Regions from separate parts of the Homo sapiens genome. Here region 2 is linked to region 1. The links come from fine-mapping of genetic effects on gene expression. A gene starts in region 1. The other region holds a variant in brackets. All regions are shown on one strand. Distances are from middle to middle.

The links. PIP is the estimated chance that this variant, and not a neighbour inherited with it, causes the effect.
Region 2: its variant is the best candidate, but not a certain one, in a credible set for the expression of SLC22A25 in nucleus accumbens (GTEx, PIP 0.53).

The regions. Positions count from the first base shown.
Region 1 is chr11:63,241,143-63,245,533 of GRCh38, reverse strand. SLC22A25 (solute carrier family 22 member 25) reads left to right here and starts at 1,935. Exons shown (of 12, transcript NM_199352.6): 1 at 1,935-2,100. It also overlaps the pseudogene CCND2P1.
Region 2 is chr11:63,429,495-63,433,885 of GRCh38, reverse strand. No RefSeq gene overlaps it. Among named protein-coding and RNA genes, the nearest start is that of PLAAT5, 59 kb to the left of the region's middle. The variant C/G (reference allele first, on the strand shown) is at 2,283.

The sequences.
Region 1 (4,391 bases):
GTGCACATGTACCCTAAAACTTAAAGTATAATAAAATAAATAAATAAAAAAATAACAATAAAAAAGAAAAAAGAACAGAAGAGGAAAAAAAATTCATGTACACTGAATACAACTTTGCAATAAAATTACCAAAAACAAAAAAGGAAAAGGAAACAAAATGCCACCCCCTGATGTTCAGCCATCTGTCTTTGCACCCGCAATAACTTTACTTTCCATGTCCAAAGAAGTATAAAGATGTAAAATTAGGTATTTAAAGAAATAAAATGAAGATCCTCTGTGTCATCAGAATGGTAACAGATCTTTGTTTTTAGGCTTTTCTGAGGAATGTTGTGATGGGGATGTCAGCAGAAAGAGGTGTCTCTTGTGTCCTGGTAGGAACACCAGAAATGTGTACCCAAGAATGTCAGATACCAGAGGTGAAGAGTAACCCAGATGGAGGCAGGGAGGGAGGGGGCAAGAGAGAAGAGGGGAGGAGTATTCAGCATGACTTGCATAAACCATGCCATCTATTGCTAGGGAAAAATTTTTCAAAGTGCTTTTCGAATGGAATGGTTTAGAACAATGCTAACCTGTGGAGCAGACATGCCAATCAGCACCAAAAATTAGTTTTTCCTAAGAAGGAATGCCAAGGTCACGTTACCCTTTTTAATACAATAAGAGAAAAGATTCCATTCTGGATGCCACCCCAGGTCTCCATCTGCCTCCATTTCATGTGAGTTTTGGTTACAGCCCATAGCTACATTTCCCCCATTAGATAGCAATACTGTGGTGTCCGCAATGAACTGCATTTGGAAGAAGCAAGATGTCACAGGACAAGAAATCCAGAAGCCAATCACCTGTGTCCAACTGGCAAAATAAAACATCTTATTTAGGTAGCAGCTAATGTAGACAGCAAGAGTACCCAACATAGAGATCCAACCACACTTCTGACTTAGTAACAGGTGGCTGAGAGTAAAGGTGCTTCTCCGTCCCAAATGGTTCAATCATGTTGAGAGATTGTTTTGTACTCCTTCCCCATCAAGTCCTTCCTTATTTCCAATTCCTTCTTGAGTTCATTGCTTTATAATCTAATCATGCCATAAATGGCATACACAGTTCCTTGAAATTATACTACAAGGGGGTGTATGTGCTAGCTCACAACATGAAAAAAAAAAGTCTCCTCTAATTTGTTTCCATATTGCAGACATACATATTCTCTAACTACCCTGCAGGTTTTCCTGCAAGCATTTTACCATTACTTTTACATAATCAAACAATAACTGTTCGAATATACGAGGGATTCCCTTATGCTGTACTTCAAATAAGCACCAAAGGCTTTTTCTTATTCTGTTTTTATAGGACTATTTTCTGTCACTTCTAAAAGATCTTTAAACACGAACTATGTGGGGGCAGAGGTTTTTTTTTTTAAGTTTCGCCCTAAGATACAAAGAACAAAACATAACCAGAAAGAAGGAGACAGCAGATTATGAATGCGCCTCTCAGCTGGACTGCCATCCTCACAGGTCGATATCTCACAGGTCTATAGGGGTGCTGGCTTGGCCCAGTTCATCCTCTGACTTGGATCTGTCCTGCTGGTCCTGATGGCACTGCTGCAGGCTGTTGAGGAAGACCACCTCAATATGCTCCCGGTTGGCTTTTGAGACAATCCACATCTGTGTTGGTGATCTTTGCCAGCAGCTCAGTCAGGGCATTGCAAGGGAGTGAGCTCACTTCCTCATGTTGCTGAAGTCCACAGATAGCTGCTCCTACACTTCCAGTTGCAACCATTGATGGCGGGTACATTGCATACAGAGCATTGAAGTTCTGGACTTGCTTGCAGATTGGAGACAGCTTCTCCCGCTGCTGGGGCAGCTTGTGCAAGATGTACTAAATGAAGTCATGAGGCGTGACAGCTGCCAGGTTCCACTTCAACTTTCCCAACACCACCAGTTCCCACTCCAGCAGCTCCTGAGGCTTGATGGAGTTGTCGGTATAAATGCACAGCTTTTTGGCAGTCAGTGGGCTGGACTCTTTGAGCCTGGAGGCCAGGAACATGCAGACAGCACCCAGGAGTTGCAGATGGGACTTTGAAGTTGGGATCCTGGCGAAGAAACAGTCCAGGTAAATCGTGGCCAGAGGGAAAACCTTTTCTTCACACTTCTGTTCCTCACAGACCTCCAGCATTAGTTAACAGGTGGCTGAGAGTAAAGGTGCTTTTCCATCCCAAATGGTTCAATCATGTTGGCCACCATCAGAAGTGGCCACCAATCAAATGGCCACCATCAGAAGTGGCCACCATCCTGTGCATGTACGGCTGGATGGCCTTCTGCACACACTTGAAGTAGGAGCATTACTGAAGGTAGCGCTTCTTGATAGCAAGCAGGTTCTTCAGGACACGGTCAACTTGGAGTAGGTTGCAGTCCCTCGTGGCTCTGAGGACCGGGTCTACCTCACAGCCCAGCAGCTGCATGGCCAGCTCTGTGACCCCTCACTCCCCTGCTTTCTCTGGACTGGAAAAGTGTGTTTGTTTTTGTTTTTGTTTTGGAGGGGGAAGGCAAAAGCATTCCCCTCATCTCCTTCCTTTGGCTCAATAGGGGGTTTTCAGAGGAGAGGTGAGGGCAGAGACAGAAGGTGGAGGAGAAGAGAGGTGAGGATTGGGCAGTGGGCGAGCAGAGCTTCCCTGCCTGCCTCGCTCACATCTCTCCTCCCCTTCGAACTCCACCTCCTTCTTTAGTGTGTCCCAAGGAACCTTATTTGGGTTGGGGCCAAAGAGCAATAGAAACGAGGGAAGGCAGCAACATAGGGATCACAGTCTATGAGGGTTAATATTGAGTGTCAACTTGATCAGATTGAAGGATGCACAAAGTATTGTACCTGGGTGTGTCTGTGAGGGTGTTGCCAAAGGAGATTAACATTTGAGTCAGTGGACTGGGAGAGGCAGACCCACCCTCCAGCTGGCTATATCACAATCACACAGGAAGAGGAAGTTTTAACTAGGCTGAAGTGATGGGGTATAGCTGAGTTTCAAATAACTTATGTCAGACCTAAAAAGGCATGCCAAGGAAGCAACGATATTAAACAAGTCTACTAAATATGACACTATTCTTAGATGGGAAAACAGGAGTCATGCAAGTGTTATTGCTGTATAGCAGTTCTGAAATCCAGCTGGGCAAATATCGAGTGCCCCTTGATAAAGACGCTATCCTACTCCTGCCAATGAGTTATTCTATACAGTTGTTGGTTCTGACATCTGGTCTCTGGGTTCTGCCTAAGAGACATCCTTCCTTTTATATTAAAGTTAGTATGTGGTTTTCGGTGTGTGGTTTTTTCCACCTGCTCTCTGAAAGTAGAATCCAGGGGTGGAGGGGGAGGTAAATAGCACCATTTCATTTTGTACATTCTCTGTTAGTTTCTGTCCCAACTAGCAGTGTTTCTGCCCATGTAATTCTATTAAACTTTTTCTTGGTCTCTTGTGACTCTTACTGGAATCTGCTCCATTAGACAAAAGCCACACCCAAAATATCTCCATTCATATAGATGGACTATGATATTCTGCTGAGAGGTAATGACATTAAGATTCTTAGAAACCTCATTTCTGTTTGACAGAGTTTGAATGTAATATCCTTAACCATCTTTAGAGAGCTTTTTGTCTGGGCTACAATCTCAGTTTATTGTCAGTACTTAACAAAAGGCCATTTAAGCTGCACAGTCTGGTGGTTCAGAGACCCTGTTGCCCACCAATGTTGTGCCTCACCTCAGTGCATACCCTCAGGTGCTTGGGTGTCTGTTGTGATCAGATGACAGAAGAAAATAGCCTTTCTAGGTTCAGATATAGAATGACTTGGTATATGGGAAAAGTAAAACTTAGTGAAGTAATGCTTCCCTCTGGGGGCCTTGATAGTCACTGATGACTGTTAACCCTCTCAATGCATTGAGCTTCAAGTAATACAACTGATTATCTACTTTGTGTATAAATAAGATAATCCTGAGGTAAGAATACAGAGACTAGGAGCTCCAGATGACTTTGTTTGATGGACTGGACCTATAAACAGAAAGATTGGATAATAGGAAGGAAAGAGGTCTGGGAAAGAGGCATGGGGATGCACCTGTGGAGTGGGCATGAGGTGTGAAGGTCTTTCTATTACATGGAACACCGTGGAAGAAGGAGAGAAGCACTAACCAATCAAATATCCATAATGACAGAGTTGAAGTCCACCAGGCTCTGTCATTAGCCTCTCCAATGCAAGCAAACAGGGTTCCTTCTGTGGCTCAATTCCAGACTTTTCTGAAGGGCCATTCCAGGTTCACATCTCCCCATGGAATGGCTTCAGGCCTGTTTTGCAACTATATTATGGTTCAACAATTAGCTCCAATCAATCATATTTCATCATGCACTTACATAAGAGCATGCC
Region 2 (4,391 bases), 190 kb before region 1:
AAGGAGTGGTACAAGCTCCTCCTTGTACCTCTGGTAGAATTCAGCTGTGAATCCATCTGGTCCTGGACTTTTTTTGGTTGGTAGGCTATTAATTATTGCCTCAATTTCAGAGGCTGTTATTGATCTATTCAGGGATTCAAATTCTTCCTGGTTTAGTCTTGGGAGGGTGTATGTGTCAAGGAATTTATCCATTTCTTCTAGATTTTCTAGTTTATCTGTGTAGAGGTGTTTATAGTATTCTCTGATGATAGTTTGTATTTCTGTGGGATCGGTGGTGATATCTCCTTTATAATTTTTTACTGCATCTATTTGAGTCTTCTCTCTTTTCTTCTTTATTAGTTTTGCTCGTAGTCTATCAATTTTGTTGATCTTTTCAAAAAACCAGCTCCTGGATTCATTGATTCTTTGAAGGGTTTTTTGTGTCTCTATCTCCTTCAGTTCTGCTCTGATCTTAGTTATTTCTTGCCTTCTGCTAGCTTTTGAATGTGTTTGCTCTTGCTTCTCTAGTTCTTTTAATTGTGATGTTAGGGTGTCAATTTTAGATCTTTCCTTCTTTTTCTTGTGCACATTTAATGTTATAAATTTCCCTCTACACACTGCTTTAAATGTGTCCCAGAGATTCTGGTATGTTGTGTCTTTGTTCTCGTTGGTTTCAAAGAACATCTTTATTTCTGCCTTCATTTCGTTATGTACCCAGTAGTCATTCAGGAGCAGGTTGTTCAGTTTCCATGTAGTTGAGTGGTTTTGCGTGAATTTATTAATCCTGAGTTCTAGTTTGATTGCACTGTGGTCTGAGAAAGAGTTTGTTATAATTTCTGCTCTTTTACATTTGCTGAGGAGTGTTTTAGTTCCAACTATGCGGTCAGTTTTGGAATAAGTGTGATGTGGTGCTGAGAAGAATGTATTTTCTGTTGATTTGGGGTGGAGGGTTCTGTAGATGTCTATTAGGTCTGCTTGGTGCAGAGCTGAGTTCAATTCCTGAATATCCTTGTTAACTATCTGTCTCATTGATCTGTCTAATGTTGATAGTGGGGTGTTGAAGTCTCCCATTAGTATTGTGTGGGACTCTAAGTCTCTTTGTAAGTCTCTAAGGACTTGCTTTATGAATCTGGGTGCTCCTGTATTGGGTGCATATATATTTAGGATAGTTAGCTCTTCTTGTTGAATTGATCCCTTTACCATTATGTAATGGCCTTCTTTGTCTCTTTGATCTTTGTTGGTTTAAAGTCTGTTTTATCAGAGACTAGGATTGCAACCCCTGCCTTTTTTTGTTTTCCATTTGCTTGGTAGATCTTCCTCCATTCCTTTATTTTGAGCCTGTGTGTGTCTCTGCATGTGAGATGGGTCTCCTGAGTACAGCACACTGATGGGTCTTGAATTTTTATCCAATTTGCCACTCTGTGTCTTTTAATTGGAGCATTTAGCCCACTTACATTTAAAGTTAATATTGTTGTGTGTGAATTTGATCCTGTCATTATGATGTTAGCTGGTTATTTTGCTTGTTAGTTGATGCAGCTTCTTCCTGGCATTGATGGTCTTTACATTTTGGCATGTTTTTGCAGTGGCTGGTACCGATTGTTCCTTTCCATGTTTAGTGCTTCCATCAGGAGCTCTTTTAGGGCAGGCCTGGTAGTGACAAAATCTCTCAGCATTTGCTTGTCTGTAAAGTATTTTATTTCTCCTTCACTTATGAAGCTTAGTTTGGCTGGATATGCAATTCTGGGTTGAAAATTCTTTTCTTTAAGAATGTTGAATATTTGCCCCCACTCTCTTCTGGCTTGTAGAGTTTCTGTTGAGAGATCCACTGTTACTCTGATGGGCTTCCCTTTGATGGTAACCCAACCTTTCTCTCTGGCTGCCCTTAACATTTTTTCCTTCATTTTAACTTTGTTGAATCTGAAAATTATGTGTCTTGGAGTTGCTGTTCTCAAGGAGTATCTTTGTGGTGTTCTCTGTATTTCCTGAATTTGAATGTTGGCCTGCCTTGCTAGGTTGGGCAAGTTCCCCTGGATAATATCCTGCAGAGTGTTTTCCAACTTGGTTCCATTCTCCTTGTCACTTTCAGGTACACCAATCAGATGTAGATTTGGTCTTTTCACATAGTCCCATATTTCTTGGAGGCTTTGTTCATTTCTTTTTACTCTTTTTTCTCTAAACTCCTTTTCTCACTTCATTTCATTCGTTTGATCTTCAATCACTGATACCCTTTCTTCCAGTTGATCGAATCAGTTACTGAAGCTTGCACATTCATCACATAGTTCTTGAGCCATGGTTTTCAGCTC[C/G]GTCAGGTCGTTTAGGGACTTCTCTATGCTGGTTATTCAGTCAGCCATTCACCTAATCTTTTTTCAAGGTTTTTATCTTGTTTGCAATGGGATCAAACTTCCCCCTTTAGCTCGGAGAAGGTTGATCATCTGAAGCTTTCTTCTCTCAACTTGTCAAAGTCACTCTCCATCCAGCTTTGTTCTGTTGCTGGCAAGGAGCTGCCTTCCTTTGGAGGGGGAGAGGTGCTCTGATTTTTAGAGTTTCCAGTTTTTCTGCTCTGTCTTTTCCCCATCTTTGTGGCTTTATCTACTTTTGGTCTTTGATGATGGTGACATACAGATGGGGTTTTGGTGTGGATGTCCTTTCTGTTTGTTTTCCTTCTAACAGTCAGAACCCTCAGCTGCAGGTCTGTTGGAGTTTGCTGGAGGTCCACTCCAGACCCTGTTTGCCAGGGAGTGCCTCCCAATTAGGCTACTTGGGGGTCAGGGACCCACTTGAGGAGGCAGTCTGTCCATTCTCAGATCTCAAACTCCATGCTGGGAAAATCAGTACTGTCTTCAAAGCTGTCAGACAGGGACATTTAAATATGCAGAGGTTTCTGCTTCCTTTTGTTCAGCTATGCCCTGCCCCCAGAGGTGGAGTCTACAGAGGCAGTCAGGTCTTCTTGAGCTGTGGTGGGCTCCACCCAGTTTGAGATTCTTGGCCGCTTTGTTTACCTACTCAAGCCTCAGCAATGGCAGTCACCCCTCCCCCCAGCCTCACTGCCACCTTGTAGTTAGATCTCAGACTGCTGTGCTAGTAATGAGTGAGGCTCTGTGGGCATGGGACCCTCTGAGCCAGGCACGAGATATATTTTCCTGGTGTGCTGTTTGCTAAGACCATTGGAAAAGTGCACTATTAGGGTGGTAGTGACCCAATTTTCCAGGTGCTGTCTGTCATGGCTTCCCTTGGCTAGGAAAGTGAGTTCCCTTACCCCTTGCACTTCCCAGGGGAGGTGATGCCTCACCCTGCCTTGGCTCTTGCTTGGTGGGCTGCACCCACTGTCCTGCACCCACTGTCTGACACACCCCAGTGAGATGAACCTGGTACCTCAGTTGGAAATACAGAAATCACCTGTCTTCTGCGTCACTCATGCTGGGAGCTGTAGACTGGAGCTGTTCCTATTCGGCCATCTTGGAACCACTATGTGGTCGATTTTAGAATAAGTGCTATGTGGTGCTGAGAAGAATGTATATTCTGTTTATTTGAGGTGGAGAGTTCTGTAGATGTTTATTAGGCCCACCTGGTTCAGAGCTGAGTTCAAGTGCTGAATATCCTTGTTAATTTTCTGTCTCATTGGTCTGTCTAATATTGACAGTGGGGTATTAAAGTCTCCCACTATTATTGTGTGGGAGTCTAAGTCTCTTTGTAGGTCTCTAAGAACTTGCTTTATGAATCTGCGTGCTCCTGTATTATAAAGTCTGTTTTATCAGAGACTAGGATTGTAAACTCTGTTTTTTTTTCTTTCCATTTGCTTGGTAAATATTTCTCCATCCCTTTATTTTGAGCATAAGTGTGTCTTTGCACTTGAGATGGGTCTCCTGAATACAGCACACTGATGAGTCTTGACTCTTCATCCAGTTTGCCCATCTGTGCCTATTAATTGGGGCATTTAGCCCACTTACCTTTAATGCTAATATTGTTATGTGTGAATTTGATCCTGTCATTATGGTGCTAGCAGGTTATTTTCCCCATTAGTTGATGCGGTTTCTTCATAGTGTCGATGGTCTTTACATTTTGGTTTGTTTTTGCAGTGGCTGGTACCACTTTTTCCTTTCCATATTTAGTGCTTCCTTCAGGAGCTCTTTAAGGCACACCTGATGGTGACAAAATCCCTCAGCACTTGCTTGTTTGTAAAGGATTTTATTTCTCCTTCACTTATGAAGCTTAGTTGGCTGGATATGAAATTCTGGGTTAAAAATTTTTTCTTTAATAATGTTGAATATTAGCCCCCACTCTCTTCTGGCTTGTAGGGTTTCTGCTGAGAGATCTGCTGTTAGTCTGATGGGCTTCCCTTTGTGGGTAACCTGACTTTTCTCTCTGGCTGCCCTTAACATTTTTTCCTTCATTTCAACCTTGGTGAATATGAT